Homo sapiens: one gene and its partner. The protein of the gene in region 2 purifies or fractionates together with the protein of the main gene of each other region. This does not show direct contact. Each region holds a gene or a part of one and is shown on either strand. Other genes may lie near its edges.

Region 1 (4,430 bases), on a different chromosome or scaffold from region 2:
CTAAACTAGGGTTTCTCATTCTCTGCACTATTAACATTTTGAGCAAGATAATTCTTTGTTGCCAGGGGCTGTGCTTTGTAGGATATTTAGAATCATCTTTGGCTTCTACACATTAGATATCAGGAGCATGTATCCCTCCCCATCCCCTACCCCCAACTGTAACAACCAAAAATGCCTCCAGATAGTATAGCGTCTGAGTCTAGGGTAGTAGTTGAAAACCACTACCCTAACTAATAGTTCTCGAGGTGTGATCCCCAGACCAGTACATCTGCATCCCCAGGGACTTGCTAGAAATGTCAGTTCTCAGGCCCTAGCCCAGATCTACTGAATCAGAATTTCCAGGGGAAGGGCCTGATAACCTGTGAACTAACTACCTTTCCAGGTGGTTCTGACGGATGTTAAAGTTTGAGAACTATTGATCTAAACATAAGGCCATCCTTAGGGAATAAAAGCAACTCTGCTTCTTTTCTAAGTCTCCATGGCTCCGGCCCCCTAGGTCCAACCCTTGCTTTGATCCACTTCTATTTGTGCTGTTTGATTAATCTATAATCTCTTTTGCCCCTAACCTATTGTTAAGACTGCTCTATCCTCTTCAGAAAACATTGGCTTCCCCACTGGCATTTTAGGCTGGTCCCACTGGAAGCCCTATGGCCTCAAAAGCAGGAACCATCTTTCTCTAGACACAAAGTCAGAAAGGGACCTTCCAAGTCTTCCCACCCCAATGCTCAGGTGTCCCTCTATGTCCCTAACCATCTCTCTGTTCTCTCTCTCTCTCTTTTTGTTTAGAGCTGGGGGTCTCACTATATTGCCCAGGCTGGTCTTGAACTCCTGGGCTCCAGTGATCCTCTGCCTTGGCCTCCCAAGGTGCTGGGGACTACAGGTGTGAGCCACTAGATCCAGCCAAATCCCTGTTTTCTGTCAGCCTCCTCTAGCTCCCTGCTATAAGACAGAAGCAACGATTGGCAAGTCCTGGGCTCAGGGCACCAACAAGTCTTTCTGGCTTTGGTAGCCAGTTCCAATACTTTCCCAGGTTTTATGGATGACTCACCTCTTGGGTACTCTACAGGAAAGTGATCTTCCAAAATTTTTTCATTGTATTTTTCAACTAACATACCTTAAAACATAGAGTCCATTTAGAATGTCCCAAAACAGTGTGTATCATCAGAGTCCATGTGGCAGCAGATCTTTCATCACAACACACCACCAGAGTCAACTTCCTAAATCTTATTTCTCCTTTGCTCAGCAATTGCCAGTAGCTAAACAGTGTTAGCAGATAAAAGTACAAACTTTTTAGTCAGGCTTCATGGTTTTCCATGGGAAGTGATGAGCAGAGCAGTTTGGAGCCAGATTTAACTAGGATTCAATTCCAGCTGGACTGCTGAGTAGCTGCATGACCTGAGACAAGTCATTAAACCACTCTGAGTCTCATTTTCCTGGTCTACAAAATGTAGATAAGTCCACATCAGAGTTTTGCTGTTAGAATCCCTGAAATCATGAATCTAAGTACCACACAAATGCCACTGTTAGTAAAACTTTTTAAATCAAGCTATTTTGGGGCTTTACAACCATTAACTCACCCCTAACATGCTCTCCAAAGCAGGTACACACTTGGTGTAATAAGCAGACACATAGGTGGCCGTATCGAGCTTACCCAAAATTCCTGTACTCTTTACAATGTAGTGCTGAGCAACAAAGAAGCCTCTTCCCCTGTGCCCACACCCACACTCACTTCTGCCCCTCAGCTGCAGGGCTGCCCCAGCCCTCTCAAATCAGAGAATGCGCCTCCTCGCTCCAAGTCTGTCATTAACCAGCTGTCTGGGGCTAAATGATTTCAAAAGCCCCTTCTCCACATAAAATTCTAAAAAAAGAATCATTAAAAAAAGCAACAGGATCCAAGCTAATTGCATATCAATCATGAGTGAATATTAAGCAACTCTAAAACACTAACATAAATCACCAAGAAAATGAAATGCAATTCTGCCCAGACACAGTGCTCCTGTAAAGGTGTGCTTGAGTATACAAGCATCCATATTATCATTAATGCCGGTTCCTCCTGACTTCTCACCAACTGCTCCTCGTCTCCATGGTAACAGCCCTTCCACTCATCAGGAACCTACTGAACATACAACTCCATCGTTTTTTTTTTTTTCTCTCTCTACCCAAGGAAGTCAGAGCAAAGGTAGGATCCACAGGAAACATAATGCAGACAAGTTCAGGGTGGGCACAGCCCCCTCTTCTCCTTTATATCCAAATTCCGCACCCTCTCCCTGCCACCCTTTCCCCTGCAAGGCCCCCTCAGTCCTCTCCACCCTCCCAGGTGCCAGACTGCAAGTCCCCACACTCTCACCATGTTGGAAATGCTGCGGGTATTGGCAGGATTCAGCATGACAATCTCAGTTGTGATGTGGCCCTCCACCGCCTCAGTCATCTCATCCACTGTGCAGTTGATAGAAGGGTCGTAGATCTTGAACCAATTGTCAGCATACCACCCAATGAGGAACCAGACGTACTTCTTCCCAAAGAGACGCTCCTTGTACACCTGAATACAGAGGAGAATGGCTGAGTTTTTGTTTGCTCATTTGTTTGTTTTTGTCTTATCTCACTTGATACTATTTAGCCTCTTGGGAATCAGGGAAGAGCAGTAGAACTAAAAAGAGAAATCTACAAGTCTTGGGGATAGTAGGAAAGGCTGACAATTCTTCCTTCTAAGTTTCTCCCCAGCCCCTGTATTTCTGAGTGGCCTTTTCCAGCCAGTCAGGACAGATGGAATTCATGGGCTTCTCAGGAAACACAAAGCAGTAGAAAAATGAGATCTGAAGAAAGTATCATGTGTGTGCAGACAAGGGATGCAGTCAGAGCCAACAGACAGAGACATCCTATGAATCGTCACCTCAGATCATATGCTATCAACTCAGGCACAGATGCCAAGAGGAGGCCCCACAAGAAAACCAAGGGAAACTCCCACCCAGTGCCCCTCCCTCTTCAGATCCAACTCCACCTCACAAAAAACTTTCCGGGCTTCAGTCTCATAGAAAAGTCCCACGATGATTCGGGCATCCTGGCGCTACAACAGAGAAAGAAACAGCTCCTGAGGGATGCCCGGGAATGCCTGAGGGGCTAAGCCAGATGTCTTCACAGCTTTGATTTCCCATCCCAAAGTGCTTAGTGCAGGGTAACGCTCAACGTATAGTGAATAAACGTCAACTGGAAGATGGAGCTAAACTTCCCCAGGAGATGCTATTGCCTCAGAGAATCAAAACCTGCCCCCGCCTGGCTTTCCTCTCCAACCAGTCACTGTCCCCCAGCTTGGTCCCTCCGTAAACAGAGCCCACCACTCCCAGCCATCTGACCTTCAGGTTTTTGACGGGCACAGCTGGATCTGAGAAGAAACTCTGGCGGAAAGTAATCTCAATTCCAGCCTCCTTCACTCGTTCCTCCAGGTCGTCCAGAGTCTTGGGTGGGAATAAAAAACAAGTTGGAAAAACACGGGGTGCATGAGGGAATAAAGACCAGAGAGGTTAACTGGGGATTTCAGAGCAATACTCAGATAGAGCAAAGAAGCAGCCATTCTGAACCTTCCTTCAACAGCTTCTGTCCCTGAAGTGAGGAGTTCGGGAAGGCATCTGGTCTTAGGATGTGGATTCCAAGTGGGAAGGTGAATGGTGAGCCCCTGCTGAGGCTCTGTGTGGGGGAAGCCACTCCATTCACCCACTCCTACCACTGAAGGCAAAGATGGGGTAAAGAAACATAAAGGAACCAGGAAAAGACAAGGCAAGGACTGGGACAGACAGCATGATGTCAACCTCAAGAGGCAAATGGGCAGACAGACAAAGGATCAGAGAAGAATGGTCTGAATCAGAGTGAAAGTGGGGGAGGATTAAAGGGCCACTGAACACAGTGGATAGAAGACCCAAAGAATAGAATAAAAGGGAGGGAGCAGACTGCCTTCTTCAGATGTAGAGCCTGTATTTCCTCTCTACCTCCCCAAATCTCCCTCTTCCCCCTCAACCTCTCCTTGTCTGTCGGCTTCTCTCTCTTAGTACCAACTACCAGATCCATGCAGCTGCCTTTCTGCCCCTCTCTCTCCTCTCCCTCATTCCTCTCTCTCTCTCTCTTTCCTCTCCCTCTCTCCTCTGTAATCCACTGGCTCCATCCCCTCTGTTCCCATTCACACCCACCCACCACCCCCCTTGAAAGCCTCTGGAATCTGCTGCCTTCCTGGATTCCTATCTCATCTTCGCTCCCATCTCTTGCCCCCACTTTGGATTGAACCTACTTTAACAGAACTGAGTCATTCTGGGTCTATATGTCTGGGGAACAGGGCATCAAACAGGGGAAAAAAATCATAAAATCATAAAGACAGAGAGGATCCCAAAAACTCAACTCATTCTTTCCCCTGGCTACAGAAAGAACTGCACTTAATCCACATG
Region 2 (5,361 bases):
AAATTGTTGTTATTTTACTTTGCCGTAATGTCTCTAATATTTTAGTTATGAACTCAGTTATCACTTAAACTCTGTAATGGTGCAAATCTGACTATGATCAGATATCCGTGTTTATAATCAATTTTACGTGAGGAATAGCCCCAGAAACATTTATATATAAGATAATAAATTAGTTTTAAAACATTAAGTGTAAACACACACATAGCAGCATTCTGTATTTTCTAATAACTTTCTAGCCTCTAAGTATTTCATAAGAAAAATCATAGATTATCACTTAATCAGGAAAAATAAAAAATGTATTTCCTGATATATTTACTTGGTTTTATTTTGAGAAATTTAAAGATAAAGAAAAGTATCTAGAATAAAGAATAAATATCTGATGTCATTGTTAAGATAAGAAATAGTAAAACAAATAATGTGGAAGTGCCTTATATTTTCTCCCTAAAAGCAGCCACTGTCATTCTAAGTGTCTTTCCCATCCAAGACATTAATTTAAATTTAAGAAAAAATACTATAAATATATTTTTACTAAGTGATAATACTGCCTTACAATCTATCTTTTTTATTTTTATGTTTTTCGAGATGAGATCTCACTCTGTCGCCCAGGCTGCGGTGCAGTGGCACCATCTCAGTTCATTGCAGCCTCAGCCTCCCTGGGATCAGGTGATCCTCCCACCTCAGCCTCCCAAGTGAGCTGTATTTCTTTGTAGAGACAGGGTTTTGTCATGTTACTCAGACTCATCTTGAACCCAGCCACTTTTTTAATTTTAAAAACTTCAATCATTGAAAATTGATGTCAGGCAGAATTATCCTAAGTAATGTTACGTACTCAATATAATTCAGTGTCTTAAAAAGTAAGGAAAGTTTGTAAGTTTGTCCTTTGATTAATATAAATAAATATTTACAATGAGTTAAAGTAAATTCAGGTTATGAAGTCTGTTCAATTATTTCTAACAATCACAAAGTAAATTTTGAAGTAAAATTTGATGATATCACCATCTTAGCCCATTTCATTTTGGTGGCTTTTTTTTATTTTCACATTGCGAAAATAACATTACATAAAAAATCAAAATTTTGCCCCTGCTTTTACCATTACAATTGGGAAAATAAAATCTTATAAAATTTTAATATTGGGAAAACTGGCCATCAATTATTAAGGTACTTAAAGTGCTATGACATCTACAGTGGAAACGTGTATTCAAATGTTTGTTGGCATTAAAATACTTGTAATCATTGTTACTGAAATGCCAATGCATGATTTCAACTGAAAAGGAAGGTGGAGAATCTATTTTACTAGATAAAATTAACTTTACTTATTTTCACAGCAAATTCACATAAGTGAGGCAACATCTGAAATATAATTTAAAAGTTTATGAATCTGGCTGTCAATGCCACTATTAAATAGCTTGTGAAAATTACCTAAAGCTCTCTCACCCTGTTTTCTCCTTTATCAACTAGAGATAACAACATATCTTCTCTTAGAAACCTACTGAAAGTTTGAAAGTAAAAGACATAGAACCTTGCTTGGTGTTTAGGTAATGCCTGTTAATGACTAGTGATTTATTGTTCTATAATAGTCACTTACATTTCCTGTTCTTCCTGAAAATTAGTAAGGTGCCTTAATATGTGTGATGAATTTTTACATCTTTGTAATTTATCCCATATTAGTAATATAGAATATTAAGAATTAAGTTTAAAAGTCACTGGCTATGAGATAACAATTTTTTTTTTTTCAGATGGGCTCTTGTTCTGCCACTCAGGCTGGAGTGCAGTGGTGGGATCATAGCTCACTGCAGCCTCAAACCCCTGGGCTCAAGCAATCTTCTTGCCTGTTACTCCCAAGTAGCTGGTATGACAGGTACGAGCCACCAAGTCTGGCTAATTTTCAATTTTTTGTAGAGATGGGGTCTCACAAAAGGCTGCTCTCAAATTCCTAGCCTCAAGTAATCCTCCCACCTCAGCCTCCCAAAGTGCTGGAATTACAAGTATAAGTCATTATGCCCAGCCAGTAATTTGTTTTTAAAATTGTCAGACAATTAAACATTCAAAATATTTAAAAGTATAGAAAAAAGTTACATTACTGATATTTCCAACTTTTAGGGTTTCTCAACATTTTCCACTTAACTACCCCTAATAGCAGAAGAGACTAAGTATGGATATATGGGGTGTATTAAAAGGCTTGCAGCAAGCAGAATGGCTAAAATCAATGTTAACACTATGTTAATCATGCCAAGAACATTTGCCAGCACCTTAACCTTTGTTTGTTTTTCTACTGTTCCTGTCCTACTTTCATTAGATGTAGGTACCCAAATAGCAGACATTTCCAATTCACAATCATAGTTTTAAAATCTGGTTTCATCTCAGGATATTATGAATTTGCAATCAATATATGGATAAAGATATGGAAGATTTATAAATTGGATAACAGAAAAATGTCTATGTTTGCCAATCTGCATCTTAGACAATGAACTAAGATAAGATATAATTGAGAGAGTACTTCTTTTTGCAAAAGTTATCCCAAAATGGTGATGAAAAAATAAAATGCAAATTTCAACTGAGAAGATTTAAAGTAGATATCATTATGGTTTCTAAGAACATGCATGTACCATATCATTCTTCCTTCTAGAATTAGAATGCTTTATATTTCTTATTCTAATTAGTTATTTTAAAATAATCCATGCTTAGATTCATAATTGCAAATGCCATTTGAATTAAAATAAATGCAAGTGACTACTATTATTCAAAGGGTACTATGAGATTGCACCTCTTAGCCAGCAACACAACTGTTTGCATGTTTTAACCAGATTCCAGACTTGAACAAATGTGGTGAAAATCAACACGAGCTCATCTCTGTGGAAACTGGCAAAGCAACAGATGCTGCTACTGGAAATAGCTGGGACTTTTGAATCCTTAGATAAAAAACATTTTGTAAAAAAAAAAAAAAAAAAAAAAAAAAAAAAAAAAAAGATTTATTCTGTACATTGCATTGCAATATTCACAGATTTAAAAGGGTATATATTATTGTTTAGTGTAATTTATTCCAGTATCAGTATGTCCATTTAAAATGGTAGAAGCAACATAGTCTAACCTTTTTATTTTTGACATTTTCCTTTCCTGATTCTGCCTCTAAACTGAACTAAGTCCATCCTTTTAACTGAATTAAACATTCATTCAAAGAACAGATCTGTGGAAGGTTTTAAAGTGAAAATGACAAAGTGAGTTGTTATTTGACAAGTCCTTAATTAAACTTTCAGGATATCTCTAACTCAGTTATTTTCCATTGTTTCTGCTAGCCGGGGATGGTGGATGTGTCACTCACACAAAGGGGGCACAATATGGTTAAAAACAATATAACCACAGGCCAAGGGAAATGTCTGAATGCTGTGACACAGAAAATATCACACAATCAATAACTTCTGAACATGGACGCTTTATCTAAACCTTACCCAATATAGATGTGTTTGCGGGAGATTGGGGGAGAGAAGAAAGGGAAGGAGGAAAGATAGAGGGATAGAGAGAATCAGACCCAGACAGAGAAAAAAGAGACAGGAGAGAGAGCAAAAGAGCGTTCTCCTGTAATGGTAGCTGTGGCTGTGTTTTATCACACGTACATCAAACAAAAGCAAAAACACAAAACAAAACAAAACAAAACAAAAAACAGAAGAGCAAATCCCTTTCAGTTAAGTCATGTAGTAATAATATCTCTATAGGATTATATGTCAAGTATCTCTCTAAGCACTATTTACAAGTTGTCTTTAATCCTCACAACTCTTCGAGGAAGAGACTGTTATCCCCCTTCCTATTTTCTAGAGGTGGAAACTGAGTCACAGAGGGATACAAGATAGTAGCATCACATAGAGGTGATGCAGCTGGAAATTGAACATAAGAAATCAGGCTTGAGGATTCATGCTGTTAATCTCATCTCTCTATCAAGTAGTACTGTGTAGGCAAAAGAAGAAACAAAAGAGAGTTTATCACTAGTAGTATAATTAGTGAATATTCAAATTAAAGTGTCAACTTTTGGTTACAAAAGCATCAAGTCTGTGATTCTGTGGTCAAGGGGACCAGATTTGCCACAATAAAAATCAAAGCAAGTGATGAAAGAAATGAACCTTTCTTCAGGGATGAACACCAGAGGCACTCTGCACAACTCCCTGCAGTAAGTACTGTGGTGTCAGACGACCCTGGGGCCGCATCCCAGCTCTACCACCTATGCTGTTTACCTTTGGAATGGTGCTTTGCCTCTCTGAACCTCCGTTTTTCTAATCTTGAAAATTATATTAAGAATAGTACTTATATTCTAGGATAATTGGAATAATTTTATGAGATATTGTATGCAATGTGTTTAGCAATGTCTTAATAAATATTAGTGATATTTATTGTAGCTGCTATTACATGTGGAAAAAGTATGGGAAACCAATTGATGAGTGAACTTTTAAGAATTAAAATAATGAATGAATCATCTTCCTACTGGACGGGAAAAAGAAATATTTGCTAATGTGACTGTTGGTTAAAATTGCTAATTATAAACATAAAAATAATAGTGGTGATATTAATTACATATTGAGTAATAATGTGCCAAATAGTGTGCTATATAGGTTTTATATATTTTATCTCATTATCTCATCACAGCAAAACTGTAAATAAGATTTTATTATTTTCATACTTCCAGGAGAATGATAGAGCTTGAAACTTCAAGTAACAGAGAATAAACAGCAAAGCTAAGTCCAGAACTCATACTGATTCCCAAACCTAAGCTCTTAACAAATAACTTTACTATCTAATGACTTCCTTAGTGAAGCATATTACACCAAAACATAGAATTAAAAATTAATATTATTTGTACAAATATATATAGGTGGTATATGTATATGTGTATATATATTTGAGTTGTTATTAAGTAAATTGTACACTGTTCATTTCTAGTGTGGCATCCAGATTTCTAACTACTTTCCTGAATAACAAAGCCTTTTGGTATCACTATAAGGATCTGAAGTGAAGAGATTCTATAGGACAATGCTAGCTGATATTCTGGTGTCCACAGTAAGTAAGTCATATCAGCCCTAGAGGCCAGTTGCAGAGAGGGTAAAGCATCGGTTTTAATGCCAGATGCACCTAACATCAAACACTGAATCCCAGCTCCACCAGTAATTAATATGTGACCTTACAAAAACTAATACATCTCTTTAAGCTTTAGTTTCATTATCTGTACATTAAGGCCCACCCTGCTGATTTTAAAAGAAGATTGTGAGAATTAAATGAAATTAAGTGACATATGTAAACTACATGCACAATAAATATTGATAATTTTCTCTCAGAAGAATCCTTAATAACAGGCTATATGACTACAACTTTCATTTA

What was found.
Region 1: the proteins of KCNJ3 (region 2) and GABBR1 purify together in Homo sapiens (affinity purification with western blotting; one study listed by BioGRID). This does not show direct contact.

Annotation. Positions count from the first base shown.
Region 1 is NC_000006.12:29,618,754-29,623,183, forward strand, and holds part of GABBR1 (gamma-aminobutyric acid type B receptor subunit 1 isoform a precursor), read right to left. Parts: intron 3,453-4,430; coding exon 3,351-3,452; intron 3,065-3,350; coding exon 2,999-3,064; intron 2,540-2,998; coding exon 2,348-2,539; intron 1-2,347.
Region 2 is NC_000002.12:154,847,614-154,852,974, reverse strand, and holds part of KCNJ3 (G protein-activated inward rectifier potassium channel 1), read right to left. Parts: intron 1-5,361. UniProt on the Homo sapiens protein: Inward rectifier potassium channels are characterized by a greater tendency to allow potassium to flow into the cell rather than out of it.